Homo sapiens: one gene and its partners. The protein of the gene in region 6 interacts with the protein of the main gene of each other region in a biochemical or structural test. Each region holds a gene or a part of one and is shown on either strand. Other genes may lie near its edges.

Region 1 (4,618 bases), on a different chromosome or scaffold from region 6:
ATAGCTGGCTCCTTTTATTCCTGCTTTTCATCGTCTTTGGCTAAACTGCCATGGAGACCTGGCCCCTTCTACCTTATTTCAGACACTTCAAAGACCAGGGACTCCTTGGCTAGATCTTGAAGAAATGCCTCAGGACACTGAGGCAGACCCACTCACCTGAGTTCCTGAAGATCAAGCAGGTAAGAATCACCATGTAAAATTCAGCCTCCATTTTCCACTTAGCAACTGTTCATGCTTCGCTTGGGGAAAAAAAAAATTCTCCCAGATAAGAGAAGCAAAGACTAGGAAGGAAATGTGCCTTCATGGTGGGGGGAAAAGTCAGTGACGAGCACTTCCTCCTATTGAATTGTTTGGGGAAGTTTTACACCAGTGTCCTTTTGTCTGTTTCCTTAGAAAGAAGGGATTATGATTACCTCTTTTTTTTAATGTAGAAAATATTCCAGCCTTCAAGAGCAGAGTAAATCTCGTTAAGACCTCACCTACCTTTCCTTTGGCATGTGACTGCTTCTTAACCTCAAGAAGAAAGAAAGGAATTGAAATCTCAGATAATTGAATGTTCCTGAAACATTACATCTCTTCAGGTGATGTGATTCTGCTGAATAAACATAAGCCATGTAATTGATGAGGGTCTATGACAAGTGATATAAAGACATAAACATGTACTGTTTGTATAATGATATGCTGCGAGTCTATTGAGGAAAACCACATAATGATGGCACTTCTAGATCATTATCTCCCAAGTGATGACAATATTACATTTTGAGATCGTCATCTTCACTGGGGAGATGCAGACACTAAAATTAAACCCATCACATTATCTACTTTGGTCTTCCCCAAACAGAGGATGGCGTCTTTCCAAATAGAAAAAAAAAAAAGAATATGCTTTACTCAGTATTTAGTATTAAGAGTTTATTGGCAGTATGAAACAAAGTCAACATTGCTGCATTAAAAATTCATATATGAGCAGAACAGCTAGTGTTTGCTGAGGGTAGTTATTTTAATTTTTTTTGTCTCTTGAAGATTGAAAGCTTTCAGAAATGTAAGGACATACATGGAAATGTCCTTATAAGGAGCCTCGAAAATGGGACAGATTATATCATTCCTGAAGGCATATACCTTTTGTTGAGAGAGAGATTCCAGGTAGATAGCATATTCAAAAATCCCTTCTTAGCAAAAGAGAGACAAGTAGTTAAAACTCTTGATACTTCAGAGTTGCTACAAATTTGTTTTTCCCTTTTAAAGTAAAATGACTCACGATGTGGAAATACAGTGGATAGAGTTCTGGAGCAGAAGCCACCTTTATGCCCAATAATAGAGAGTAAATACATATATACCCAATGACAATCATTGTGCTCTGTAATTGTTTGATAGGAGGGACTATAAATACACATTTAATAGGTAATATTATCAAGACACATTTCCATATAAAATAGTTACTGTTTTTGATTTTTGTTTTTCAAAAACAAAGACTTCTCTGTTAAAAATCCATTATCAATCACTTGCAACTTTAGCAGCAAGATTCTGGTAACTGAGAAAGGTAATAGCACTTCAAAACAGGAACAGTTTAACAGCTGACAGTCCATTCACAAGACAGATTTTGCAAACATTAAAGCATCTAACACATAATACGAATGTCTTCAGCAGCTCATCCAGTCATCACCTGATGACATTTATTACTGAATATTACATACATACATTCTGTGTGGCAGATAGAGTCAGTACAGACAAAACAAAATCTGCCTTAGGCTGTGTGATAAACCTATCATACCTCCATCATCAAAAAACCTTCAGAATAATTTGGGGGATGCTTACAAATGCATTCATATACACAAGGAGCTGGAAATCTTAAATATGTTGCCCAGTCTTCCACAATCCATGCCATACATGGGCTTCAGAGCTTCTCCTTCCTTCCATTGCAGGAAGCTCCTTCTAGAAGCCTTGGGTGGGTAATTTGATTAATCACCCCAAGAGATTGATGGTCTGACAAGTCTTCAATGACTCACTGGACAGTCTCTGCTGAAAGTCTGCTCTCATACAGGCACAGAGCATGGTGCACAAATTCATACTGCTCACTGGTTTGCACCATTCCACCTCTGCAAGGAAGAAATCATAAAATAACTGATTTTGCTAAAATCTTGCAATTTCAAGTAACACAGAGATTTCATCCAAGCTAGGGTATTATGCCAAAGACACATAGAACAGTCGACCTAGTGGTTCTTTTGTTATCCCTCTTACCTGTGTCCAAATGTCTCAACTATCAAAGTTAACATGGTAATGTATATAAAGGGCTTAACACAGTTCCCAGCACACACTAGGCACGTGATTAATTTTTACCTGTGTAACATTACTGGGGAGGTGGTACAGCCTAATGATCAAGTACTTGGATTTGGCATCAGCCAAGGTGAGTTCAAATCCCTCCTCTGCCAATTCTTAGCTGTATGCATCTTGGACAAATTCCTCGAAACCCCTTGCACTTTAGTTTCTTCCTCTGTTAAAGCAGGATAGTAACAGTAACTACTGCTGTGAAGGTTAAATAAATTCATTGTAGCTGGTATATTTGTATTACTTCTCAGGTGCCTCATGATTCATCTCTTGTTAAAATGGTTTATACATTTGGCTTAAAATTGATTGACGGAGACAAACCAAACAAAACTCATCTGCAAAATGTTGCTTTCTACAAGTAAAATGAAGTCTACCTTGGAATGGTTTATTTGAATATGTTGTACAGAAGCAACCTTAGCCTTTTGGTGTACGGGGTGTCTAAACACAATAGTGGGTGGGTCCTTAAATGAGTTGGAAAAAGGGAATTGGCTCTGCTGTGACATTTTCCTCTTGGTTATCACCATTATCATCACTAGCTGCCCAGCACCCTCCTTGTCAATGGATTCATAGAAAGCACTTGCCTTCATGAGAAATAACGGTGCTTCTCATTATGTTTTTATATACATAATACCTATATCACATTTTCCCCCTTCATAATTATGATCCTTTTTTAATTTTAGTTTTTGAGAAAACGTCTCCTTAATTGCTTAGGCTGTTGTGCAGTGGCATGATCACAGCTCAGTGCAGCCTCAACTTCCTGGGATCAAGCAATTCTCCCACCTCAGCCTCTGGTGTAGCTGGGACCACAGGCACCACCACACCTGGACAATTTTTAAATTTTTTTTTTCTTGTAGAGACAAGGCCTCACTATGTTGCCCAGGCTGGTCTCCTGGACTCAAGTGATCCTCTTGTCTTGGGCTCCCAAAGTGATGGAATCACAGGCTTGAACGACGGTGTCCAGTCCTATAATTATGATTTTTTAGCTTGACAAAGTTACCAGACATTAATATGTTACTATTCCTGCTCACTGTATAAAAGCATCACTATCGGTAACTATTTAAAGTCTTGTAAATTCTCTGTAACTCTGCAATCATGCAACTGATCTTATCTTTTAGTTTAACTCTATGTTTTAACCAGATTTTTCCAAGTGGTTGTTAGTATCATTCAAAATAACTTTCAGATTATTTAGGCACTTCAACTTAAAAACAAGATATCTTGTCTCACTGTAACAAGACTTCTAGTTAATGGTAATAATAAAAACTGGGCTTCTATGTTTATTTGTCAATCTATGTCAATATTAGAGCAGTAAAACTTCCTTGTTTTAAACTAAACAGTGATTCCCCAGGAAAATTAACATGATGTCAAAATGATGTAATTGGCAAAAAATAAAGAGGTAAATTCACAGTTTTTGGTGACAGCAACTTATTGACAGAAGTATTTAATTGGTCTTCCTCCCCTAGAGCTGTACATTTTGTTGCATTGAAGGCAACCTTCTGGGCTAAGTATTCCTTGGTCAGAAGTGAACAACAGAAATGGCCAGCTGAGAATGTGGTAATGGTTTATCTTCTTAGCTGTGTGATGACATCTGGGCTCATCTAAAATCATAGCAGGTGTTCCGAAGATGCTGGCTTGAACTGTGAAGCTTGGGAGACACCACCACAGTAAATATTAGGGTAGCTCCAGGGAGCTGAGAGGTGCCTCCCTTCCTCTGGCATTTGCACAGCTCAGGGCACCATTACTCCCTCTTGAGCTGCAGACAGTATGTGGAAGCTTCTATGTGCTCCACCTCTTAGGCTCTGGTCTGTCAGCTTCCTCTCACCATTTACCTCACTTTGAGGCAAGATTTTCCCCTTCTTGTATGTTCTGGTCAGCACTGGTATTTACATGTCCAACTGGTGAATGAATGGAGACACAGTTTAGAATTTAATAACTGTTTCACCCTAAGTGGGTCAGTGGTGTAATTTAATGGTTGGAGTATATTTACTATGACATTCTGTTCACTAAATCAAGGTTGTTTTAGCCAGTGAAAGTGGGGAAGATGGAGAAGCATACTCATTAATTGTGGGCTGGCAAAATTCTTGCAGGTCTGAAGGCTTCAGGAAAGTATATGAAAAGTTCTCTTACCTCCCACTTAATTTGGAAAATAAAAATGAAAAAAACTGGCATCAGAGGAATTCTTAGAGATCATCCATTCTAGTCACTGACAATATAGCTTTTTTAGAAATCTTGCAATTTTAGAGGCAGCCTTTTCCAAGGTTGGCAGGAAAACTTTTAAGACATCAACATGAATCTGTCC
Region 2 (3,820 bases), on a different chromosome or scaffold from region 6:
GTCTCCTCTCCTCATAAGGGCTCTTGTCAGATTGGACCGGGACCACCCGAACCCTCCCGCCACTTAATCACCTCTTTTGGTTCAGTCCCAAACAGAGAGAGACATGGGGGGGCCGGCTCCAGCCAGTGGATGAAGGGGCCACAGCACCTCCCTGGCTGCCCCACACGCAATGTCTGCCTGGCGCATCCTCTGCCCTTGCCGACTTCCTTGCCATGTGCAGGGCCCTGTTTGTGACCCATCTGTGCATTTACTGTGCGTCTCCCGCTGCTCTGCAAGGCGGCGGTGATGAGGACAGAGCTGAGTCTCTCAGGCCCCGCTGCACCCAGCCTGGCACAGCTCAAATGGGTGTCAGGGACTTTGTGGAACGGACAGGTGAGTGGATGCAGAGGCTCTTAGAAGAGGGGGCCACAGTGACCGGCCCCACAGCTGATTTCTTAGGGCTCCTGGGCCGTGTGACGCTGGGCAGGTGGTAGCCAGCATGCTGGCTCCTGCCTCTGCCCCTCACATGGTGCCAGCAGGGGAGATGCTGGCCTGGGAGCCCAGCCCCATCTCTGCAGCCCCGAGGCCAGCAGTGGGAAGGGGCTGGCACCCTTCACGGTGCCCCTCACTCACCACAGCCCCGGGGCAGCTGCCCCACGCATGGCTGCCCAGTCCTGCTGGAACACTGGAAGCTGCCCATGCCAGGGCTACAGACAGGGGCTGCCCTCGGGGCCGCCGCAGCTTTGGGTCGCGGCCCCAGCCTCTGAGAGCAACCCAGGACGGACCGCCCTGCCTTGGAGGTGGGGCCCCACCTGGCCTGTTTGCACCAGGGCTTGGCAGGCAGCCCCCTCCGACCCCAGCAGGCCTCGGGTCCAGGCCACCTTGAATGCCGACTCCTGGCCATGCCTGGTTCCAGGACTGGTTTTTCTTTGGAGAGGGGGTGGACAGGCAGCCACACACCAGGGTGTGAGGGACCCGCCCCGTGAGGCCGACACACATCTGCTGTACCTTTATTGCACTTTTATGACATTGCAAACTATTCCACAAAACTCTGCAAAGGTCAGCCCACAGCTGCGCACAGCCAGCCCTGCAGGATGCACTTGCACCAACCGTCCACAGCCAAGTCCGAGGTGGGTGCTGCAGGCCAGCGGGCGGACTCGCAGGACGCCTGGTCATCGGGTCCTCCAAAACCACGTAGGCATCCGTCCACCAGCGCACAGGCCAGACGTCCAGCGAGAGCCTCCTCCCGTCCTCAGACGAGACCCTCCAGCCCTCCAGGAGCCGAGGCCCCAGGAAGGAGAAAGGGTTTTTACTTGAATTAGGTCCCGAGTGTGAGAGCACTTGAGGGGTGAGCTTGGCCTTGAGGGGCCCCCAGAACCAGGGAGGGCGGTCCTCGTGTTTGGTTTGGTAGGTGATTGGCATCTGTGTACACGTCTCTGTTTATATACTTATTCATCAAATATAAATACAAAATAGTAAATAAAGGCTCCTTTCCCTACAGAAAGGATGGAATGCCTCCGGCGCCGGCCGCCTCTGTCCGTGAGCACAGACAGCGCTTCCTTCCCAAGCTTTTCTGGTCAAACACTGACAAAATGTGTCCTATGAGACCTGGGGAGCCTCGCCTCCTGTGGCAGCAGCTCCCGACTCCGGATGATCCCGTCCTGCCTCTGAATTCACTGAATTCACGACGGGCGCATGCGCTTGCTGGGAGGTCCGGCGCCTCTGTCTCCGTCCCGGGCAGCGCAGCGGCCGGCGGACACTACCTCGCCGAGGCGGCTCTGTGCTCAGTGTCCAGGTCGTCATCCACCACGCTGTGGAGCCCGTTCCTCTCCACGCAGTCCCGGACGGCCTTTAGCACGACGCGGAGCCGCCGGTCCAGGGCCTCCAGGTGCGGCTGGTACAGCACGGGTGCCACCTGGTCCCCCCGCAGAGACTCGGCCATCAGCAGGCTCAGCTTGTACTCCTCCTTGGCCAGGAGCTGCAGACGCAGGTAGGTGGACTTCCGGATCCTGGGGAGGAGAGGGGCATCAGGCCTGGCACGGGACAGGGGAGATGCCTGCCCACGGGAAAGCGAGAGAAAGTGAGAGGGAGATCGAGAGAGTGGGGGGAGAGACAGAGAGAGAAAGAGGGGGACAGAGACAGAGAGAAAAAGACAGAGACATACACAGAGAAAGAGAGACACAGAGAGAAAGAGAGGGAGAGAGAAAGGCAGACAGACAGAGACAGACAGACAGAAAGAGACACAGATAAAGAGAAACAGGCAGACCGAGACAGAGAGAGAGACAGAGACAGACACAGATAGAGACGGCAGAGACGAGAGAGACCGCGAGAGAGGGGCCTGCGATCCAACACCTCATCAGCCTCCGGGCTGTGTGACCTGCTTCGGCGTGGTCTGCCGCCTCTCACCTGCACAAGGGATGAGGGTGCCCTTGCAGGATGTGGTGGCCGGTGTATTTCCCAGAGGGGCCCGGCAGGAGGATGGGGAGGTGAGGAGGGCGGCCCGCTCACCCAGGAGGATGGGGAGGTGAGGAGGGCGGCCCACTCACCCAGGAGACCGACCCCAGCTCAGCACATCCGCACAACACGGGCGCTGTGATGCCTCCTTAGAGAAGTACAAAGCGTTTGCCCTGCAAGCCTGCGTCCCCAGCCATGAAACGGGGGAAAGGGGGTCTGAACCCCCGCAGAAGGTGGCAGTGGCAGAGACCGGCAGCTGCGTGCGGGAGCAGGGTCCCTGTGTCTCAGCTGGCGTCTGCCCTGGCCTCGAGCTCTCTCTGTAACTGGGGTGGCAGGACGGACACAGAGTGGAGGCCCGAGGGGGCTCGAGCTGGATGGGCCTGGGGTGGTGGGCGGGTGAGGTCTGCGCCTCCAGGCCGCCGAGTGAGGGTGTGGGTTGAATTCAGGGCTGTGGTTGAATTCGGGGCCTTTTCTCTCCCATGTGATGGCCGGGGTGGGGTGGGGAAGGCTGTGGCCTCCTCTGTCTCCTGCGCAGTAGGGAGGAGGGTGGAGCTGGAGCCGGCTCCGGCAGGGGCTGTACCTGCAGCACTGCTGTAGCGGCACCAGGATGGAGAGCTCGTCGTGCGAATACTTCCCAAACCTTCCAGAAGAAAAGCAGAATTGTCAAGGGCCCCTGTACAAGGTTCCTAACAGGCTGCTGGGCTGGGAGCTGGGCCATGGGTCCACCTGCCTGTACCCGACACCCCAGGCAGTGGGTCCACCCAGCCCATCTCCAGCACCCCGGGCAGTGGGTCCATCCCACCCATCTCCAGCACCCCAGGCAGTGGGTCCATCCCACCCATCTCCAGCACCCCAGGCAGTGGGTCCACCCCACCCATCTCCAGCATCCCGGGCAGTGGGTCCACCCTGCCCATCTCCAGCACCTCAGGCAGTGGGTCCACCCTGCCCATCTCCAGCACCCCGGGCAGTGGGTCCATCCCACCCATCTCCAGCACCCCAGGCAGTGGGTCCACCCTGCCTATCTCCAGCACCTCAGGCAGTGGGTCCACCCCACCCATCTCCAGCACCCCAGTCAGTGGGTCCACCCTGCCTATCTCCAGCACCTCAGGCAGTGGGTCCACCCTGCCTATCTCCAGCACCCCAGTCAGTGGGTCCACCCCGCCTATCTCCAACACCCCGGGCAGTGGGTCCACCCAGCCCCATCTCCAGCACCCCAGGCAGTGGGTCCACACTGCCTATCTCCAGCACCCGGGCAGTGGGTCCACCCAGCCCCATCTCCAGCACCCCAGGCAGTGGGTCCACACTGCCTATCTCCAGCACCTCAGGCAGTGGGTCCACCCCGGGCATCTCCAGCACCCCAGGCAGTGTGTCCACCCAGCCCATCTCC
Region 3 (4,618 bases), on a different chromosome or scaffold from region 6:
ATAATTAGTGAAATAAAGAGTGCACCTAAAATACATATCTAAATTACTTTTAAAAGACCCATGATTAGAAAGAAAGTAAAATTAATAAATGGAAATTGATACAAGACATAGCATAGTAAAACACTAAAGCATAGCACAGGGAATAAATTAGACTAAAAAAATAATTGAAAGGCTAACTAAATCAAAGAAATACATTTCAATAGCCAACTATTACTCAACGATTCTACTATGCATGGCATTATGAAGATGTGCCTGTTTTACCTAACACCCTATGTTTTCTTTAGGAGAAAAGACTGAAATAGTAGGGTGGAAGGAAGGCATGCTGGGTGGAGGAGGAAGAATGGCTCCAAAGTTCAGGGCTATCAGGCTATAGGAGAGAGGTGTTGAACCAGAGACTAAACAGAGTCAGGGAAAGGGGAGCTGGAAAGGGGGTGAATAACTTGGCGTGCGCAGGACTGACTTGTCCATTAGACGCAATAGGCACAGTGATTAGGGCCCATGATAATTTTAGGGCAACACAATGATTTAATTTGTTTGAAAATAAAAAAGAAACTTTAGAGTCAAAGAAAATGTTTTAACTTTTTCATAGATTAGGAAAAATGACAATTTTAGGCTACATGAAAATCTATTATTTTACTTTTCTTTTTTTCAGCAGAGGAAAGGGACCATAGAGGCAAAAGAACCCAGGGCCCATGAAAGTCATACATAGCCCTGTGTGTGCCCTGATAAGTTCAGTGACATGTCACAGGCTGAATATGGTTGGGGAATGCTGGATGCTATACCTGCTATCTTCAATGATCATATAAATCATATATCAATAATCATTGATAACATTATTTTCAGACATTATATTTAAAAATGGTCCACTACAAGGCCCATGTTGTTACAATGATGCAAGAAGAAAAACCCTAAAATGACCGTGACAGCCAATTTAGTACAAGTAGGGTTTGTATACACAAAAGGCACTTTCTGTTTTGTTTTGTTTTTCCCCACAAGCTCTTCGTATTCACAAGTACTTCTGCCGGCCAGTAAAGCCAACAACTTCTACGAAAACTTTTTTCCCAAGGGTGTATATGATTGCTTATCTTTTACAATGTTCACACATTTTATTCCCTCTCCCAAATCACTACAACTAAACAATTACTTTAACCAGCAGTTAAATCGAGCCTGCCAACAATATGGTTTAGTTCATCAGCAAAATCTCTTTTAGGGATTTTACCGGTTCGGCCATATCAGGGACACTTGAAAATTTGCCTACAAATATTTGCCTGCTTTCCAGTGCAGCCCTTGGAATTAAAAAAGAAAATTCCTGCCCTCAGATAAAGGTGAGATTTGAATGAATGAATCTGAATTGAGTGGTAAATAAATGAATAAATGCTGATTGGTTGGCTGACATTCTATATTCAGTGTTACTTTCTTCACAGAATGAAATGTCTGAGTGAAAAATAACAATTTTAGACAATTGACTAGCTTTTTATAAATGTAAGGAGACTTGACATTCCTTCGAAAAGTTATCCAAACCATGGATGGAGTTCTGCACCCTTCACCTGAAAGTTCTGGAATGACATAGGCATGGCCTATCGGCCCATGGATTTGCGTGAATGTTTTTGAAACCAGTTTTGAGTTTATAATGTTTTAATTTCCCCCTGGCAAGGAATATTTGCTTAGATCTAGTAGCAAACCAGTAATTTCCTTTGAGTAAATTTCCCTGTTTCTGTACAGGCCAAGGCATGAGAAATTTTCCCCATCTGATAGATTCATAAAACTTCAATAACTGGGTCACTGTAAGCTTTGTTGTCTGCTTGGGGCCAGTGCTATTTCTTGCTGGAATAGATGCAACTGTAACTTTTTTTTCTTTTACAGATAGGGTCTTGCTGTGTTGCCCAGGCTGGTCTTGAACTCCTGGCATCAAGCAATTCTCCCACCTTGGCCTCCCAGAGTGCTGGGGTTATAGGCATGAGCCACTGTGCCTGGTCAACTGTAACATTTGATTGCTTGGTGAGTTTAAAAATTATACTTGGATTGCACAGAAGACAAAAGCAATAATTTATGATGCCATACACTAACTATTCATGGCATTCCTGAAAGTAGTCCTTAAAGCTTTATTATTCCTTTTTCCTTTACTGTTCTGACAGTAAACACTTTGCACAAAGTTGAAACATTTATTAATTTATTCAGGAAGAAGAAGTGGTTAGTAATAATGGTGCTAGCTAAACTATTAATATGATAAACTCTTGTGTGCCCCCAAAAGACTGTTTAAAAATATGCAACTTTAAAATTACCCTTGAAACATTTTTTTAAAGAATGACTGCGTACTCCTCAGCAAATGTAAAAGAAGAGAAATCACAACAAACTGCCTCTCAGACCACAGTGCAATCAAATTAAAACTCAGCATTAAAAAATTCACTCAAAACCGCACAACTACATGGTAACTAAACAAGCTGCTCCTGAATGACTACTGGGTAAATAACAAAATGAAGGCAGAAATAAAGATGTTCTTTGAAACCAATGAGAACAAAGACACAATGTACAGAATCTCTGGGACACATTTAAAGCAGCGTACAGAGGGAAATTTATAGCACTAAATGCCCACAAGAGAAAGCATGAAAGATCTAAAATTGACAACCTAACATCACAATTAAAAGAACTAGAGAAACAACAGCAAACAAATTCAAAAGCTAGCAGAAGGTAAGAAATAACTAAGATCAGAGCAGAACTGAAAGAGATAGAGACACAAAAAACCCTTCAAAATATCAGTGAATCCAGGAGCTGTTATTTTGAAAACATCAACAAACTACATAAGACTGCTAACAAGACTAATAAAGAAGAAAACAGAGAAGAATCAAATAGATGCAATAAAAAATGATAAAGGGATATCACCACCGATCCCACAGAAATACAAACTACCATCAGAGAATATTATAAACACCTCTATGCAAATAAAACAGAAAATCTAGAAGAAATGGATACATTCCTGGACTCATAATGTGTCCAAGACTAAACCAGGAAGAAGTGGAATCTCTGAATAGACCAATAACAGGTTCTGAAATTGAGGCAATAATTAATAGCCTACCAACCAAAAAAAGTCCAGGACCAGATGGATTCACAGCCGAATTCTACCAGAGGTACAAAGAGGAGCTTGTACCATTCCTTCTGAAACTTTTCCAATCAACAGAAAAAGAGGGAATCCTCATCCTGATACCAAAGCCTGGCAGAGACACAACAAAAAAAGAGAATTTTAGACCAATATCCCTGATGAACATCAATGCAAAAATCCTCAATAAAATACTGGCAAACCGAATCCAGCAGCATATCAAAAAGCTTATCCACCACAACCAAGTCAGCTTCATCCCTGGGATGCAAGGCTGGTTCAACATATGCAAATCAATAAATGTAATCCATCACATAAACAGAACCAACAACAAAAACCACATGATTATCTCAATAGATGCAGAAAAAGCCTTTGACAAAATCCAACAGCCCTTCACGCTAAAAACTCTCAATAAACTAGGTATTGATGGAACAGATCTCAAAATAATAAGAGCTATTTATGATAAACCCACAGCCAATATCATACTGAATGGGCAAAAACTGGAAGCATTCCCTTTGAAAACCGGCATAAGACAAGGATGCCCTCTCTCACCACTCCTATTCGACATAGTGTTGGGAGTTCTGGCCAGGGCAATCAGGCAAGAGAAAGAAATAAAGGGTATTCGATTAGGAAAAGAGGAAATCAAATTGTCCCTGTTTGCAGATGACATGATTGTATATTTAGAAAATCCCATAGTCTCAGCTTTGGGCTGAAATTTTGGATCTCCTTAAGCTGTTAAGCAATTTCAGCAAAGTCTCAGGATACAAAATCAATGTGCAAAAATCACAAGCATTACTACACACCAATAACAGACAGAGAGCCAAGTCATGAATGAACTCCCATTCACAATTGCTACAAAGAGAATAAAATACCTAGGAATCCAACTTACAAGGGATGTGAAGGACCTCTTCAAGGAGAACTACAAACCACTGCTCAACGAAATAAAAGAGGACACAAACACATGGAAGAACATTCCATGCTCATGGATAGGAAGAATCAATATCGTGAAAATGGCCATACTGCCCAAGGTAATTTATAGATTCAATGCCATTCCCATCAAGCTACCAATGACTTTCTTCACAGAATTGGAAAAAACTACTTTAAAGTTCATATGGAACCAAAAAAGAGCCCACATAGCCAAGACAATCCTAAGCAAAAAGAACAAAGCTGGAGGCATCACACTACCTGACTTCAAACCATACTACAAGGCTACAGTAACCAAAACAGCATGGTACTGGTACCAAAACAGAGATATAGACCAATGGAACCGAACAGAGCCCTCAGAAATAATACCGCACATCTACAACCATCTGATCTTTGACAAACCTGACAAAAACAAGCAATGGGGAAAGGATTCCCTATTTAATAAATGGAGCTGGGAAAACTGGCTAGCCATATGTAGAAAGCTGAAACTGGATCCCTTCCTTACACCTTATACAAAAATCAATTCAAGATGGATTAAAGACTTAAATGTTAGACCTAAAACCATAAAAACCCTAGAAGAAAACCTAGGCAATACCATTCAGG
Region 4 (4,008 bases), on a different chromosome or scaffold from region 6:
CACGCTGAAGTGTTCACAGATTGCCACGCTTCTGAACATACACACACACATACAGACACAGACACATAAAATGCCAACCTGAGTAAAACGTTACTAAAAACCTAGAACATCATGAATCACTAATTCACATATTGCACCTTTAAATAATCCTTCATACCAAATACAGACATGAGAAAAAGGATAATACAGGGACAAGAAAAGGATTTCTGCCACTGTAGGATTCCTCTGCTTCTCCCATTCCCACCCACAGAAATTCTCAAGGTGATATTTGAGTCGCCATTCTCACCCAACCAATGGGTTGAAAATGTTGCCAACAGAAGAGTCTTTGGAGAAAACTGGGAGGGAAAAGGGAAGAAAAAATGGAGCACAAATGTACAGGGGGCAGGGGAAGCGGAGTCGGGGCAAAGAGGCCTCCCCTGATCAAATGAGAACAGAAATGTTACTGAGGAAGCAAACCTCTGATGCTAAGCTACTGTTTAAATATTCCGTATATTCCAATTATGAGATTCAGTACAAAAATATAGATCTCTACTGAGTTTTGCCTGTGGAAGCATAATTCAGAAAAGGCACATGTTCAAATAGAAAACCCATTCGGAAGAGGTGCCACGTACCCCTCCCTGCGCAATCATCATCCACAATTAGGTATTTTCCATCGGCTAGATTCCAAGACACAGTAGGTAAAAATAGACCTCTGATACTTAAAATATATTCAACCCAACACAATCCTGGCTTTAGCATGTGAATCATATAAAATAGTCTTTTTTAAAAAAGAAATTGTTTTGGAAAAAAAAATCATAGCTCCCTTTTCCTGGTTTTCCACAATCCTCAAGGGGGAAAAAAAAAAAAAGTGACCTCATCCCATTGGTCATCAGGAATGCAGATGATTTGCTCCCCACCCATCCACAGCCCCCGACAGCCCCAATTTGTCATCTATCATATGCAGCTTCATGCCCTCAAAATTAGTTCTCACAAAACAGAACAAAGAATTAAGATATTAGACATATAAAAACATGTCGACATCGGGGCATGTGCCTTCGCTGTGGGTGCGACGGTCTGGTTCACTCCAGAAAGGTTATTCCTTTGGAATTAGGCGATGTAACCATTGGTCTTTCCAAATGTGGTCACGGGCGCAAGGTTTTCATAGATTGTCATTGCAGTTGTGTTCTGGTAGATAAGATCTACTTTTGAGTCTTTCTGGGATCTGACAATATCCAAAACACACTGATTGAGGAAAACATACTGGTCCTGATAGAAAAACGAAAGAGAGAGACAGAAAATGAACATGGGTCCCAGAAATTAGCACCCAAAATTATTTTCAAACAGGTCATTCCCCCGCCCAACTCCCAAACCCCATCCACCCAACAGCAAACGGTTCAAGCGAACATGTTTCAAGAGGTAACAACATTGCAGTGAAATCTGAAATCACAGAAGCAAGATGTCCTTCCTCAATGATTCTCAACCAGAAGAGCACACTCCACACCTCCCCTCCCCAAGGAAAAATGCCACAGTCTCAGGGAAGGGCAAAGGAAGGAGGAAATGTAGAGGAAAAAATGCACACACACATTCGAACAATCAAATGTCCAACAAGATTGCCTTGGCTAGTGAGACTGTACAGAGTAAGAATCAACTGTAATGCTCAACCGAGGAGCGAGGTTAAAAGGAGATGATCAGGTGGAGCTGGATGAGGACTATCCTTCAGGTAGGTATATCAGAATCTGTGGATAGTGATGAAGAAAAGAGGAAACAAGGGTATAAGCTGACACAGAAAAATATCCATGATATTATAAGAGGAGAAAAAAAATCACAGAGAAGCAACATACATAAAACAGGATCTGGCCAGGCGCGGTGGCTCCTGTCTGTAATCCCAGCACTTTGGGGAGGCCAAGACAGGTAGATCGGCTCAGGTTAGGAGTGCGAGATCAGCCTGGCCAACATGGTGAAACCCCGTCTCTACTAAAAATACAAAAATTTGCTGGGCGTGGTGGCACACACCTGTAATCCCAGCTACTCAGGAGGCTGAGGCAGGAGAATCGCTGGAACCCAGGAGGTTGAGGTTTCAGTGAGCTGAGATGGCACCACTGCACTCCAGCCTGGGCAACAGAGCAAGACTCCATCTCAAAAAAAAAACAGCATCCAATTTTTTCAAAGTACTGTGTGTGCGTGTGTGTGTGTGTGTGTTTACAGATGTACATAAAGAGTCTTATAAAGATGTACACCAAACTATAAACATTGGCTACCTCCAGGAAGCAGGATTGGGGAAGGAAGAGTAAGAGAAAAATATATTGAGGCCAGGCACGGTGGCTCACACCTGTAATCCCAGCAATTTGGGAGGCCGAGGCGGGCGGATCATGAGGTCAGGAGATCGAGACCATCCTGGCCAACATGGTGAAACCCCATCTCTACTAAAATACAAAAAAAAAATTAGCTGGGCATGGTGGCACACGCCTGTAGTCCCAGCTACTTGGGAGGCTGAGGCAGGGGAATCGCTTGAACCCAGGAGGCAGAGGTTGCAGTGAGCCGAGATCGCACCACTGCAATCCAGCCCGGTGACAGAGCAAGTCTCCGTCTCAAAAAAAAAAAAAAGAGGAGAGAAAAATATATTGTCAAATGCTTTCATATGAATAAGTATTGTTTTCAAAATATAAAAAAGAGATTAGACTCTAGTAGCAGGGATAAGAGTTCTATGTTTCTCAAAAAAGGATAAAAGATTGAGAAATACTACTTTATATAATTATAGCAGAAAAAAGAAAATCTCTCTTTTGACCAACACAGGAGTTGAATTTCACTCTTTCCACAACAACCACCAAGCTCACCCCAGAGCACGCAATGTACCCAGGCATCTAGAACATTCCCTGCTAGACTCAAAAACACAGCACATATTCATAGAGTTCTAAATCGGTACAGGACGATAGCCTGATACAAAATTAATATTCTGCTCTCATCCTGGTCAAGGAACATTCACCCCTTTGAGGAAAGCAACTTTGCAATATGTTCTGTTGAAAACATGCCTCAAAAACACTTCTCAGTAACAGTTTGGGTAAAACCAAATCCAGCAGTAGTACAGAAACTATACCATAGATATTAAGTGTTCCTTTTCTCCGCTGGTCAGCCACCCTTCTGTAGCTATGATAATTGATAGTCTTTAAAATGTACAAGTCTGGGTGAGGATAAATTGCTGTATTAACATTTAAGCAGCATTATGATATGTCACATCATTAATGTTTGATGAGTTTGTTTCATTAGCTTATTTTAAAGATGGTCAGACCTTCTTAGAAACAAAGACTGGAAAATACCAGTTTTATGAGTTTAAAACCTGGAAGCCAAAGTTCAAAGATGTCCTAAGATTATTTAATGAGTCAGAGGCAGCAAGGTAAAGAATCCTGACACTATCTCAGTAGTAGTTCCATTACTGACATCAGTACTACTATGTCACTTGTATTGGGTAATTTAATTCCAAGTCAGCTTAAAGTCTGCAAAGAAATCCAGTGTTAGTTCACAGCCAAGAGCTGGAAAGATCTGGAAGGGTGACATATTTTAACACAAGTGCATGACACAATGCAACCTTTTAAAAATGGAGGGGAAGGGCCAGGCAAAGTGGCTCATGCCTGTAATCCCAGCACTTCGGGACACTGAGGCAGGCAGATCACTTGAGGTCAGGAGTTCGAGACCAGCCTGGCCAACATGGAGAAACACCGTCTCTACTAAAATTACAAAAATTAGCTGGGCATGGTGTGCGTGCCTGTAATCCCAGCTACTTGGGAGGCAGAGGCAGGAGAATCACTTGAACCCAGGAGGCAGAGGTTGCAGTGAGCCAAGATCATGCCACTGCACTCCAGCCTGGGCGACAGAGCAAGACTCCGTCTCAAAAAAAAAAAAAAAAAAAAAAAAAATGGAGGGGAAGGGTGGAATGTCAAATACAGATCTTGGCCTCACCTCTGTCTGCACCATTAAAGGCCTATGCATTCGAAGGTCATACACAATCCCATACACATCCACGGTGTTCTCATT
Region 5 (4,618 bases), on a different chromosome or scaffold from region 6:
GATTTCACCATCTTGAGAAGCAGGAAGCTGAGGATCCTGAAGGTGAGAAAATCAGGTTAGGGAGAGTGTGCTACATTTTGCTACTACTTTCATAGAAAAGTAGTAACCTGTAAATGTGAAACTGTCACTGAACAAATATTAAACACTGTTTAGGTATTTTGTGCTAGAAGAAAGCAGCAGGGGAGGAAGGGAATAAACATTTATAGAGCACTTGCTATCGGCTAGACTCTCAATATATCTTACTGAATTTAATCCACTCTACATTCCTACAAGATAGATATTATTATGCCCAATTTACAGATGATACCACTGAGGCTTACGGAGGCTAGGTAACTGGCTTATAGTGGTACAGCCAGGAAACAGCAGAACAGGGATCTGATCCTCATTCCAGAACCCGTATCCTTTCCATCATGTGGCTTCTGAGTGTGCGTGTTCGTGCATGTGTACGTCTACACGTGTGGTTCACAGCTTCAGGCTGACCCCAGCACCTGAGGCATCTAGGATCTCCCCAGAGCTCTGCTCTCACTGCTCCCCACCCCTTCCCCTGTGCTTCCACCTTCCAGGGCTATGACGGGAAGGAGAAGGTCTACATTGCCACCCAGGGCCCCATGCCCAACACTGTGTCGGACTTCTGGGAGATGGTGTGGCAAGAGGAAGTGTCCCTCATTGTCATGCTCACTCAGCTCCGAGAGGGCAAGGAGGTAGGAGGCAGAGCCACAGTTCATGATGAACCCAGAAAGTGCTATGCCCACCCCACCCCCACCCCACACACAGGGCAGCTCAGAACCAGAGGTTTCCCTGGGAGCCAGCCCCAGCTCATACCTCTCAGAAAGTTCCCTGAGATATAGCCCTGGGAGGCTGTCTATGGCCAAAATACGGGATAGGGTGAGCACTCTGCTTGCAGGTATCAAGCTCAGAAGAGCCAGGCTCCCTGTTGCTGACCTCCCATCCAGTAGGGGTGGAGGATGGGGAGGAGATACCAGCCCCTCTCTGCTGCCCTGTCACCTGCTCCAGCTGACCCTCTTCTGACTCCCAGCTCCCTCCCTCCTAGAAATGTGTCCACTACTGGCCCACAGAAGAGGAAACCTATGGACCCTTCCAGATCCGCATCCAGGACATGAAAGAGTGCCCAGAATACACTGTGCGGCAGCTCACCATCCAGGTACCACCCCCCCGGAGCCAGGCCCAGTGGGAAGTTGGGCCGCCCACAGCATCTCTGGGACTCAGGCTGGCTCTTCACTAGGAGCCAAGGGTTTGCTCTTCTAAACCATCTTAAACCCACATCTATAGCAGAAAGAGAAACTTGAGCACTGTCCTCAGCCTCTAGTCTAATAGGGCAGAGCCAATAAGCCAAATAGGACTACCGGGAAGTACTCACCCATCTGTGTAAATGGTCAGGCGGGGACAGGCAGGATCCAGGAGCAGGGCCAAGGGAAGGAGAGGAGGTTAAAGGAGATGTGGAAGGCCAGGTGTGGCGGCTCATGCCTGTAATCCCAACACTTTGGGAGGCTGAGGGGGGCGGATCACTTGAGGTCAGGAGTTCCAGACCAGCCTGGCCAACATGGTGAAACCTTGTCTGTACTAAAAATTACAGCTGTTTGGAAGGCTAAGACAGGAGAATCACTTGAACCCAGGAGGCAGAGGTTGCAGTGAGCCAAGATTGTGCTACTGCACTCCAGCCTGGGTGACGGAGTGAGACTGTCTGTCTCAAAAAAAAACAAACAAAATAAAACAAAAAAAGAGAAAGAGATGTGGAATAACATGTACACAAGGGCTTTTAAAATGCCTTCTATTATTTTATGGTGTTTTATATTTTTGAAAGCATTCCTCTATCAACTCATTCTCCTCCAAATATCCTGGCAAGTAAACCAGTAAGATATCACTGTTCCCATTTTCCAGGTGAAGAAAATGAGATCAAGGGACTTGCCCAAAGTCATGTGCTTATGGGAAGCAGAGCCAGGGCTTGAATTTGGGTCTCTCCCCTCTCCCAGGACAATGCTCCTTCCCGGGATTTTGAAGGGGGAAGTGGTGGAGAACAATGAGCACGAAAATTGCAACCTAGCTTGCTTTGAGTAGATGACCCCCCCACAGGGTAATTCCAGCCCTTGCCCTCCTCAGGCACCAGAGAAGAAGGTAGACAGTGCCCTCCACCCTGACCTTGGTTCTCATGCCTTGTCTCCAATCCAGTACCAGGAAGAGCGCCGGTCAGTAAAGCACATCCTCTTTTCGGCCTGGCCAGACCATCAGACACCAGAATCAGCTGGGCCCCTGCTGCGCCTAGTGGCAGAGGTGGAGGAGAGCCCGGAGACAGCCGCCCACCCCGGGCCTATCGTAGTCCACTGCAGGTGCGTGGCCCTCCCTTCACTGCAGCCTGTGGACTGTGCTCCCCTCCCCTGCCCCCTGGGTCTCTCCTGGGGAAGGGTCTGAGCAGAAAAGCATCAGGCAAGCCTAGTCCTTACTCAGACATGACTCGCAAGGCCATTCAGCAAGGGCTCTGTTCTTTTTACCTCCTTCACGCAGAACCCAGACATCTGGGCTGGACACCCAGGCCCCATCCATAGAGGGGATGGAATATCAGGAAGATCCCAGTCAGCTGCAGGAGGACATAAACAGGATTCCAGCTGTTGGGGAACTCATTTACTTATTCAACAAATATGTATTGAAAATCCTATTATTGGCCGGGCACGGTGGTTCACACCTATAATCCCAGCACTTTGGGACGCCAGGGCTGGCAGATCACCTGAGGTCAGGAGTTTGAGACCAGCCTGGCCAACATGGTGAAAACCTGTCTCTACTAAAAAATACAAAAATTAGCCAGGCGTGGTAGCACACACTTGTAATCCCAGCTACTTGGGAGGCTGAGGCAGGAGAATTGCTCAAACTCTGGAGGCAGTGAGCCGAGATCACACCACTGCACTCCAGCCTGGGTGACAGAGCGAGACTCCATCTCAAAAAAGGAAAACCTATTTTTGTCAGGCACGGTGTTAGCTGCTAAGGAGACAGCTATGAACCAAGCAGTTTGGTTTCTTCCCAGACAGTTTTATAGGCTGGTGGGAAAGAAGGCAGATTAGGCTGGGTGCAGTGGCTCATGCTTATAATCTCAGCACTTTGGGAGGCTGAGGCGGGAGGATCACCTGAGGTCGGGAGTTCAAGACCAGCCTGACCAACATGGAGAAACCCTGTCTCTACTAAAAATACAAAATTAGCCACACATGGTGGCGCATGCCTGTAATCCCAGTTACTCGGGAGGCTGAGGCAGGAGAATTGCTTGAACCCAGGAGGTGGAGGTTGTGGTGAGCTGAGATCGCACCATGGCATTCCAGGTTGGGCAACAAGAGCAAAACTCTGTCTCAAAAAAAAATTAAATACCACGCAATGTGATGAGAGCTGTGATGGGGATATTATGGGGACCATAGAACCAAGTCTCCTAAACCAGACTTTGACCAGAGAAAGTTTTCCAAGAGAAAGGCCATCTAAGCCAAGCTAAGACCTGAAAGGTGAATTAGCCAAGTGAAGAGAGGGAAGGGAACACGTTCCAGGCAAGTGGAAGAGCACATGCTAAGGCCCAGAGAAGAAATGTGAAAATGGATACACTGCTGGGAGCAGGGTTACAGGTTAGGCCCAGAGGTTGTGTGTGGGGTAATGATGAGAGATGGGTTTGGAAGGCCAGTGAAGGTCAGATGATGAGGGGACTTGGAGGACTGGCTAAGACACTTGGATTTGCCATTTTAAAAGAACACTTTGGCTATAGAGTGAAAAATGGATTGGGCCAGAGTGAGGGGGTGTCGTAGGGGACAAGACTAAAGAAAGGGACCATTTGGGAGTGCATATCCTAAATAAAACAGAGCACAGAGGCAAAAGGCATGACACAGGGGCCTCCCAGCCCACCCACAGGTAGCACTGGGACATGTGCAGGGAGGTCATTAGGGGCTCACGCAAGAGGAAGGGGAGGCCTAGGGGGTTTTGAAATAAAGAGAGGGCACGATAGAGAAAGCAGAACAGAGTGGAGAGAAGACTGTGGGAGGGCGCCAAGGTGGGAAACAGAGGGGCCGGGCGTGGGCTGCGTGGAAGATGAGTCTGAGCTGAGAGGAAGTCAAGGTTAGATAAGGAGGGCTCGAGGGTCAGCACACCCACAAGTGGGAAACTGTCTGTTGGAAACCACTGTAGACTCAGCAGAAGGGAGATCGTCAAAATGTCCACAGGGACCAAAAGGTGGCCTGCAACAGGCTTACAGTAAGGCTGGTAAGAAATGTAAACTCCTCCCATGCCAATTAAAACCTGCCTCCAGCAGGGCCCCCAAGGGGACTGGAAAGCAGAGTACTGCTACCTGCCTCCATCTCCAGAGCCCTATCCCCAAAATATAGCACCTGCAGGTCCCATTTCTTTCTCCATAGTTTGGGGCCTGGCTCTCATATTCCCTGGTCTCCCATGACCTCCCTGTCCCCTCCCTGGCTATCTCCAGTGCAGGGATTGGCCGGACGGGCTGCTTCATCGCCACGCGAATTGGCTGTCAACAGCTGAAAGCCCGAGGAGAAGTGGACATTCTGGGTATTGTGTGCCAACTGCGGCTAGACAGGTGGGTCTGTGGGTGTAAACAAGGCCAACAACGTTAACGGAT
Region 6 (4,618 bases):
TCCTGTATGTGAAGTACAATCTCTCACTCTTCTACACAGCCCTTCAGAAACAAATACCTTGATCCTCGCATGACTGGAGCACGTTGCTGACTGTGCTTTATATGAAGGAAGGTGAAGGAAAGCAATATACTTATTTTCCTAAATCATCAACTACGTGCCATAAATTCATACTCAAATCATAAGAAAAGTGCTCAAACTTGGGATTGTTTAATGTTTTTCTATGAAAAGCGTTTACTACAGCTCCCTAAGCAATAAGCATGAGAAAGGGTAAGAGGGCAAGGAAGAGGCATGCTGAGGCAGCTTGTTGCAAACATCAAGTGCTTGAAACAATGCTCTGGGGTTTTTTCATTCTAAAGTGGACTTGGTCGACCCATATATGATTGGCGAGGAAATGCTGAAAGGTCAAAGGGTTGTTAGACTACTTTGCCAGGCAATAGCAACACATGACTTTGCTGAACATCCTAGAAGCCAAGAGAACTGAAATCTAAAAGACAATAAAAGTACTCACTAAGCAGGATGATGATGCAGAGCAGGATGGCAATGATGGCACCGGTGCCAAGCCCCGCACCCACAATCCTGTCCACATCTGTGCAGTCCCCGTTGGAGTCACACTGGCAAACCTTCACACGCAGGATGGAAATATTTGATTTGGGAGGATTACCCGAATCTGTGATTATGATGGGAACTTCATAGATACCAGCTTCAAGAAATTTTATCTTTAAATTAAGCTGAGCAAAATCACCTATATGAAAAAGGAAAAACATAGTTTGATAGGTAATACTTAAAGCGATAAAAAAACACATAGCATTGTTCAGGATGTATTTACTACCTAATAGTACACATAAAGCGGATTACAACTATGCTGCATTCTAAATACTTTTTTGGCCGTAAAGGCCTTTAATATCTTACTTAAACTTTAAGTAGCTTTTAAAATATGTATAATGAGAAGATTATGAAGCACATAAAATTAACTTTTCATGCCAGGCTTCAAAATCTCTCAACTGCACATATATTCAAATAATTAACCTGTTCTTACCATTAAGCCGAGTGATGGTCCAATTTCTCTTAATAGTCACTGGAGATAAAGGAAGATCAAAAGCAAATGGTCCAGCATTTGGATCAATGTCATAATCAAGTGCTGTAATATTAATTGAATTGGGGTCTGGAGTTTCGCAAGTCTCTGCCTCTTGAGGTAACACTTGAGGGGCATTGTCATTAATATCAAGTAAATAGATCTGCAGCGTTCCTGTTCCACTCATAGGAGGAATTCCTGAAAAGAGAGAAAAATCACAAATGATGCTGAACAGTTCTCTCCAATGAGCCTCAATTATGGTGAAATTCTCAAAGCTTCTAACCTTCTGGCCCTTTTAACTGTGTAACCTTGGAAAAACATAGTTGCTATGGCATCTGGGCAGACCGTTTCCAGAACAAAGCCCCTTCTTGCTTCCCTGCTAGAATGACCCTGAGCTGCCACTGCTGCTCTGCAGGAGCTGAGCAAGGTGACGAAGAATGCCCCTGTGATGGAATCCCGTACCCTCCCTGCCCCTCCTGCCCATTATTCAGGGCTTGCGTAGACCATGCTCCTCCAGGCACTGTGAGGAGTGTTGGAGATGCAAACACAGGGCTCGTGATCCTGTTGACACTATTCTTTTTATGGAGAACCAAGACATATGCATGAAAGAACATAAGAATGCTTTTAACGCTCTAACACAGCTTTGACTTAACGCAACAGTCTACAGACAAGTGATACAGAACCACAGACCTCAACTCAGGAAGGAACATCATGCAGAAGAGAAATGATATTTACTAACCAACCAACTACCTGCTTGAGATCATATTAGGCTGCTCTATGTACACTCTTTGATTGTAATCCTATGACACAGGTTTACACAGATGAACCTGAGTCTGTAAACTGCTCATGGCCACACACTCTTGTAAGTGGTGGAGTTGCTACTAAATATTGGTCGGCCTGACCTCAAACCCATTCTCATTCCACTATAATAAAATGCTGTCTCCACCACTTTGTGTGATAATTTAATCTGGTGATTTGCTTCTGCTACATTGTAAATATTCACACACACACAAATATATAATATGTTTATGAATATTTTATAAATAATGCTGTACACTGAAGACCAGAGACTTAAGCGACCTGCCAAAGGTCATGCAACTAGGAAGGTGCACATACATACACAATCCTGGGGAGGGAATAAGGAGGAATGTTTACCAACTTCTATGAGGAATATGATGGTTCTAAGAGCAGGGAGAGTTGAACTGGAAGGGTATAGTGGCTGTTACAATATTCCAACACCACCATGACCACTATGATACTCAACAGTTTGAGGGACTTCGAAATTTACTATCACATTTAATATTACTATACTTTTATAACAACTATATAGAATATGTAGGTAGTGAAACAATTTATCAATAATGAAACTAAGGCATACAGAGTATAAGAGCTTGACTAATCATTAACGAACAGAGCTGGGGCTCCAAGTCTAGCCTTGTGGCTTAAAGGAAAGTGCAATTGCAAAGCATCACAGCTACATACATTATAACAGGTCACTTCTCTCTCTTATCAAAAGCCCTTTCAATTAGAAAACAATCCTTCCTGGTGAATGAGAAATCTGGTTGTAACTCACAACCAATATACATACATACATACATACATATAATTTTATGGCTCTTTAGATCTTAACATAATGATTCAAGATGCATTACTTTCAGTACCACTGTAGAAGAAAGCCACGGTTTATGGCAAAAAAGCATAAAACAGGTACTAATGACATGCTTTGATGTACAATGGCAAAAGCTATTCCTACAAAGTTCCAACACTAAATATTTAAACAAGAGGTCCCATATTAAAAAGGATAAGAAATATTTCTTTGGTTGGTCACTACATAGATTTTCTACAGATAGTAATCTCATTAAATCTTAGTATACAGATTTAGAAAGGTTCACTGACATTATTCTTAAAGTATTGATATGTCTTATTTTAGTAATGCAAAATATTTTACAATTTGAAAATTGCAAACACCAACTTCAACCACCAAATTGAAGCCTGCTATTTTTTATTAAGTACCAACATTCATATTCATAGTTTAATACTGAAAATATTTTAAAATATAGTTGTGGTTCAGTTTTGAAACTATTAATACGCAATAGGAATACTTAGTTGAGTGGTTAGTTCGTGTCAGCCACTGTTTCAAATGCTTCATATATATGTAGAAGTCATTACATTTTAGTTAAAACACTGAGTTAGGTGCTGATACGTATCTATTTAACAAAAAAAGGAAACAGATATATTTAAAACCTCATGGCAATCCCACAGATTCAAAGTGGGAAAGCCGGAGTCTGCACCTGGGGGTCCTGTAGAACTCCAGAGCTTGAAGTCTGAAACACACATCGTACTGAGAGCTAACGAAGCAAAATAAGCCCCTCATCAGGTTTACAAAAGTCCCCTTTATATTACATATCTGAAAAAAGTCCTTATCTATTAATCTTAACCAATGAGAAACCAGCAGAGACTCAGAAAGGAAAAAAAGGTGCTACATATGTATTCTAAAACCCATACCCTGAAGCTCACTACTCACTTATCTCAATTTATGCACAAAATTAAGTTTCCTAGCCCATGGCAGACAGAGGCAGAGAATTATAAAAAGGAAGACTGATAGAGATGCACATATGAAAGGCAACAGAGTGACTAGAAGACATATAAAAAGAGCCACTGAAAAAACCCAGTGTCTAGGGCCACTGAGGATGGACTTAAGGCATCAACATGTGACAGGACAATAAGATAACAAAGGTATGTCTACATGAACGATGGATGGACATCGAGAACAGTCATTGCAAAGACAGTGAAGGATGTTCCAGAACACCTGTCTGAAATGATAAATAAAAGCTGGACCTCGGAATTATAAAAGTCAGTTTTCCAGGCAATTGAGTTTTGTAGAAAACTTTAATTCCTGAGCATGCATGATGAGGATCTACTGTCTTTCATCAACATACAAGAAAAAACAGCGAACATACCATTGTCAGAAGCAAGGAAAGTAGCATTATATATATTGTTTTTCACATTTGGTGATTCTCGGTCCAAAACAGCAATTGTAGTTATTTGTCCATTCACAGGATCTATTTTTAGCCAATTGGCAGGATCAGATAATTTAGTGTATCTACAAAATGAAAGTGAAGTTTAATTTCTTTTTATGAAACTTTAAAAAAACATATTTTACAGGTTTAGTTCCAAATGCAACTGGCTCATTAACTTGCATTTCTGTAGATGATGGCTGGACATACAGCTTTAACAGGAAAAAGTATTTTTGTGACAGTGGTATTGGGAGGCACATAAAGGTTGTGTTTGGTCAGGCATGTAGGAAACATTCTACAGGTGTCTGAGGGACAAGACTAGGTGCACAGTCTCCCTAATGTGGGCTAAAGCAGATTGGAAAGTTATCATTTTAGGTTCTTGTCCACTTCAACAGATATCAATGGTTCAGGTAAAATAGCTTGAATATAGTTTCTAGATAAGCAGTAGTCTCAATGTACAGGAGTTAAGAGAAATTATAATAGAAATTGAATACTGCATCACAGAACACTCCTAAAACATTTTAACACT
Region 7 (4,618 bases), on a different chromosome or scaffold from region 6:
CATTGAAGGTCCATTACGGACCATTAAAGTGCCTGGAGACTATCCCCTGGCCTCAACTGGCACAGCCATGGTCCTCAGTCAAATCCACTAGCACTAACATGTGATTAAGACAGCCTGGGTAAATCTCTCATTAGGAGAGGAGGTAGCTAGGCAAACAGCTGCTACTTCTCTACATTTTATTCATTATTCAGTACCCCAAGATATTTCTTATAGCAACTCTTCCTAATATCCCATGTTGCTCAGATATACATAATAAATTTAGGCAGCAGAGGTTAGAGGATCAAAATTAAAAATAAAATCACCATCATCTCTTGAGGTTTTCAAAAATAGTAGAGTTAGTAGGTTTTGTCTGTGTCAATATCATTTACCACAGCTTACTTTACCCTTTGCTTTCTATTAAAAATAAATAAATGCATACATGCAAACACCTATACATGCATACATGTATAAATTCTGTCATGATATCTGAAAACCAAGCAGTTATCTAAGATAGTCTCTTGCATTCACAGACATATTATCACCTTATATGCAGACTACTATTCTAATCAAATCCAATCACTAAGTCAGGTTTATATTTGGAAATATTGTTTCAGAAATTTGGAATACAAGCCAAAAATTTTTTAATCTTAAATAATAATTATATAGATTACTGTTAAGGAAAATGATATATATATAGTATACATTAATATATGATACATATATAGTAAGAACACTAACCTATACATTAAAATCTTTAATTTGAGCTCAAGTTCTTCCTACCTGTATGACTTTGGGCAACTTACGTCAAATGAAGGGGTCATTAATTTCTAAGATCTTTTTTAACACCAAATTCTACAAATTTTTAATGTTAGACTAATTCAATACTGAGACAAGGAAAATAAAATAATGGAAATAATATAAATTCATGCTTTAAAGTAGTCCTTAAAGGGAAAGCCAATAAATAAACACTCTCAGATTAAAAACAGGTGATCTGTAAATGTATACAAGCCTGCCAGACACAAATTGCCTCTTTCCTCTCTTTCTCTTCCACGCTTTCCCACTTAGAGATCACCTAGTGGTCCACAACAGAGAACAATCTGATCCTACTGTCTCTTCCCCATCATCTCCCATCTTCTTTCTTCCCCATTAGAAAGATTACAAACCCTGGGCCAAGCCAATCAGCACACTAACTTCCCCTCAGTCAGAGCCTTAGATTCAATGGTTGGAAACAAGATCAGTGGATTCAAGCACTGTAAACCTTAGAGCCTTATCAGGTGCAACCAGCAGATAATTCACATTTCCTTAAGGGACTTGAACCTGGGATCTTGTTCGGTGGGAGCTGCCACAGCCATCGTGCCTCTATATGGAGCCTAAGAAGCTCCTGGAATACCCTAGAACTAAACTAAGCAGGCAGAGAAACATCATGTCTCAGTGGAATTACGTCAACTTCTAAATCAAGCTCCACCTGAACTGTAGTTAGGAGAGACAAATAAATTCACCTTTTGTTGCAACCAGTCTGGGTTACATTTTCTGCCAAGATGCAACCAAAGAAATGTCTAATCTTTAAACATTTGTGTACATTCATTAACGAATCTTGACTCTACCAGTGACTCATATAGCCACTTGGGACAAGTTATTACTTAACCCCTCGAGGCCTTAGTTTGTAAAATGGAGATGATCCTCATCTTAAAGGATATTGTGAGGATTTAAAATTATGTAAAACACTGATCACAGGCCCTAGCAGGTCATGGGCTCTCAGTAAATTACAGCTCATATTGTTATTTTTGCAATTGCTTTAGGAAAAGCTCTCTTCTCCAACATATAAGAAAATAAATGAACCTAATTATTGCTCATAAGAATAAAAGCAGTACTAGTAAAAAAGACAAGTTCCAGAATTTGGAGTCAAACTAGAAAAAGTAACTGTGAAGTTCTTGAAGATATACGAAAGTGCCCTCTCAGAGTCTCTCCACCACTACTTCTCCTCTAACAGTGATCAGTCTCCTATTAAATCTTTCTTTAAACATTAGTGTCTAAATTAAGTACATATGGAAATACACTGATTTACAGTTCATTAATTCAATAAATTATATATTTTATATTTAAGACAATATAGGTTATGCAGACTTTTATTTACAGTATCAAAAATATAGAGAACGTTGCTATTATCCCAAACTCCAGCTTCTGATCTCATGATACAGCCAACTGTAATGGGTGAACATTAATTTTTACTTCTTGTTTTTTATTAGTCTCTGCCATAACCACGTCATTATGCCAATATTTTCTGAATCACTAGTGAATGGCAAAAACAAATATAGCAGTTGTGATTTAATCAGAGACAACACTGTTGAAACAGCTAGCACAAGTAGACACATTTAGAATAGTAAATGGATAACAAAAAACACTTACAGGCTCATTAATAAGAAGGCAATTAGGTCTTCTGGGAAAATTCATTTTCTAAAAGAATGCTAAAGCAAGCTATAAAATGCAAGTAAAATTGTGTTTTGACATGAATAGTGTACACTGTCTATTACATCATAATTTTTCTCTTGAGAAAACTGACAAGAATCTCTGTTCTTAAATATGAGCACAAAAGATAATAAAAAGAACACCAGTTATATTTAATGCATTCTACCTACCAACTCCCATTCATTAAATTTGACTGTCCTATAAATGAGCTCCTTACTACAAAGATCTTAAATTACACTTAGATGAAAAAGAGAATTATAAAGCAAGAGACTGCTACTAGTAATGTCAGAGGGAATAGTATTTCCTGTATCAACATAACATTATGCTAAAAATGATTTGCATATAGCATGTTTGGTTCCTTGAAGAGTATGTTTATCTTTAAATATTCTTATACAAAATATTCATAACCAAAACTAGTCTTACTTTTAGTCTCTTATGAAAATATTTTTTTTCAAAGTCATCTGAGCATTCTTTTAAAAAGCTTGTATAGTACTGTTGTTTTGATGTGTCTGGAATATTAAATAATAATCAAGTAAATATTGATCAGAAATATACTCCAGGGGCCGGGCATGGTGGCTCACACCTGTAATCCCAGCATTTTAGAAGGCTAAAACAGGAATATCACTTCAGCTCAGGAGTTCGTGACCAGCCTGGGCAACATGGTAAAACCCCATCTTGACTAAAAATACAAAAATTAGCTGGGCATGGTGGCGCACCTGTAATCCCAGCTACTTGGAAGCCTGAAGCAGGAGAATCTCTTGAACCCAGGAGGCAGAAGTTTCAGTGAGCCGAGATCGTGCCACTGCACTCCAGCTTGGGTGACAGGGCAAGACTCCATCTCCAAAAAAAAAAAAAGAAAGAAAGAAAGAAAGAAATAAAGAAAAAGAAAAAGAAAGGAAAAAGAAATATAAATCCAAGGAAATGTATTTCAGGTTATCATTAATCCTTTTGCAATATTCTTGAAATTCTATGGTAAAGTTCATGTGACAATCTTTTTAAACTGAGCTTTCTTTGTCCTAGAGCAGTGTTTCCCAGAATTAAATGTTCCATCAAATCACCTGGGGATTTCATCAAAATGCAGATTCTGATTCAGTAGATCTGGGGTGACTCTGATGATCACAGATCATCACAAATTTCCAGATGATGCTAATTATATTGGTCCATGAACCACAAAATCCCAGGACACCTTGCAGTGAGGAATCCAATGACCATGAAGCAATCAGTCATCAATCCCTGGGTGGGTAGTGAGGACCCTAGAAAGCCTTCCTCTCTACTCTTGAATTTACTGAATGACCTAAGAAAAATCACATCAAGGAACTGTTGCCAGTCTGTCACTTAAGCAGCTGCTAGGTCACCTCCACTATCCAACACGGATTAAGGGAATTTCTGTGGCTGGTCAGCTGCTGCCTTGAACAGCGCTTGGAGAATCGGCCTATGAGCAGCTGGTTAAGGAACAGGCTGCACTGGGAAGGGTTTATATTAATAGATACCAATCTGGAGAAAGATTTATTATTTTATCCTTAAAAGTATAACAGTATAGTATAGTATACAGTATAGATTATATACAGCTTATTTTCCACTTGTTTCTACATCTATGAAATAAAGTAGTGATCTATTTTCACTACTCTTTCCAAAAATGTTAAGTATGGAGTTTTGATACCATCTCTAGATGCCCTTACCTTCTTTCTAACCTAAATGTTTCTACAACTAAGTCCTAGCATTGTTAAGATGTGTGTGTGTGTGTGTGTGTGTGTGTGTGTATTCACACAGAGGACTACATACTTACATCTTTCACATTTCCCAACAAAATAAATACAAACAATAACTCCACTACGCACTATTTTATTTTGCCTTGTTTCTGAATTCCCCTTATTAAAACAATTCCTAGAATGACACCTGTTGGAGGATTCAGCCAGCACTGCCCTGTTCATCATTTTCATTATCAGAGCTCAATAATCATATCAAGTGGAAACACGGATTATTCCATTTAGGACAACTTAATTTGATCCTAAAACAACTGTAAGTGACAAAATAAGCCACTTGTAATTTTTATGGATTATCAACACACGAAGGAGAATGCCAAAAATTTCAACCAGAGTTAAGTGGGGAAATGGCAATGTTCCACGAGAGGATCAATGTGATCCTTAGATCCCAGGCCCAGTGTTTTCCCAGA

Evidence for each region.
Region 1: of the proteins of CDH2 (region 6) and PTPRR, one has a biochemical effect on the other in vitro, tested with the Homo sapiens proteins (one large-scale study listed by IntAct).
Region 2: of the proteins of CDH2 (region 6) and FAM20C, one has a biochemical effect on the other in vitro, tested with the Homo sapiens proteins (one large-scale study listed by IntAct).
Region 3: of the proteins of CDH2 (region 6) and PTPRB, one has a biochemical effect on the other in vitro, tested with the Homo sapiens proteins (one large-scale study listed by IntAct).
Region 4: of the proteins of CDH2 (region 6) and PTPRJ, one has a biochemical effect on the other in vitro, tested with the Homo sapiens proteins (one large-scale study listed by IntAct).
Region 5: of the proteins of CDH2 (region 6) and PTPN7, one has a biochemical effect on the other in vitro, tested with the Homo sapiens proteins (one large-scale study listed by IntAct).
Region 7: of the proteins of CDH2 (region 6) and PTPRK, one has a biochemical effect on the other in vitro, tested with the Homo sapiens proteins (one large-scale study listed by IntAct).

Annotation. Positions count from the first base shown.
Region 1 is NC_000012.12:70,637,185-70,641,802, forward strand, and holds the end of PTPRR (receptor-type tyrosine-protein phosphatase R isoform 1 precursor), read right to left. Parts: intron 2,489-4,618; exon of another isoform or gene 2,335-2,488; intron 2,094-2,334; coding exon 2,000-2,093; 3' UTR 895-1,999; downstream 1-894. Other genes in the region: PTPRB (receptor-type tyrosine-protein phosphatase beta), read right to left, coding at 157-211. UniProt on the Homo sapiens protein: Sequesters mitogen-activated protein kinases (MAPKs) such as MAPK1, MAPK3 and MAPK14 in the cytoplasm in an inactive form.
Region 2 is NC_000007.14:257,899-261,718, reverse strand, and holds the end of FAM20C (extracellular serine/threonine protein kinase FAM20C precursor), read right to left. Parts: intron 3,074-3,820; coding exon 3,014-3,073; intron 1,989-3,013; coding exon 1,739-1,988; 3' UTR 947-1,738; downstream 1-946. UniProt on the Homo sapiens protein: Golgi serine/threonine protein kinase that phosphorylates secretory pathway proteins within Ser-x-Glu/pSer motifs and plays a key role in biomineralization of bones and teeth.
Region 3 is NC_000012.12:70,626,889-70,631,506, forward strand, and holds part of PTPRB (receptor-type tyrosine-protein phosphatase beta), read right to left. Parts: intron 1-4,618. UniProt on the Homo sapiens protein: Plays an important role in blood vessel remodeling and angiogenesis. Not necessary for the initial formation of blood vessels, but is essential for their maintenance and remodeling. Can induce dephosphorylation of TEK/TIE2, CDH5/VE-cadherin and KDR/VEGFR-2.
Region 4 is NC_000011.10:48,164,441-48,168,448, reverse strand, and holds part of PTPRJ (receptor-type tyrosine-protein phosphatase eta isoform 1 precursor), read right to left. Parts: coding exon 3,934-4,008; intron 1,246-3,933; coding exon 1,087-1,245; 3' UTR 1-1,086. UniProt on the Homo sapiens protein: Tyrosine phosphatase which dephosphorylates or contributes to the dephosphorylation of CTNND1, FLT3, PDGFRB, MET, KDR, LYN, SRC, MAPK1, MAPK3, EGFR, TJP1, OCLN, PIK3R1 and PIK3R2. Plays a role in cell adhesion, migration, proliferation and differentiation.
Region 5 is NC_000001.11:202,150,269-202,154,886, reverse strand, and holds part of PTPN7 (tyrosine-protein phosphatase non-receptor type 7), read left to right. Parts: intron 1-563; coding exon 564-701; intron 702-1,036; coding exon of another isoform or gene 1,037-1,051; coding exon 1,052-1,162; intron 1,163-2,187; coding exon 2,188-2,345; intron 2,346-4,462; coding exon 4,463-4,576; intron 4,577-4,618. UniProt on the Homo sapiens protein: Protein phosphatase that acts preferentially on tyrosine-phosphorylated MAPK1. Plays a role in the regulation of T and B-lymphocyte development and signal transduction.
Region 6 is NC_000018.10:27,984,492-27,989,109, forward strand, and holds part of CDH2 (cadherin-2 isoform 1 preproprotein), read right to left. Parts: intron 4,176-4,618; coding exon 4,033-4,175; intron 1,271-4,032; coding exon 1,037-1,270; intron 743-1,036; coding exon 509-742; intron 1-508. UniProt on the Homo sapiens protein: Calcium-dependent cell adhesion protein; preferentially mediates homotypic cell-cell adhesion by dimerization with a CDH2 chain from another cell. Cadherins may thus contribute to the sorting of heterogeneous cell types.
Region 7 is NC_000006.12:128,510,197-128,514,814, forward strand, and holds part of PTPRK (receptor-type tyrosine-protein phosphatase kappa isoform b precursor), read right to left. Parts: intron 1-4,618. UniProt on the Homo sapiens protein: Regulation of processes involving cell contact and adhesion such as growth control, tumor invasion, and metastasis. Negative regulator of EGFR signaling pathway. Forms complexes with beta-catenin and gamma-catenin/plakoglobin.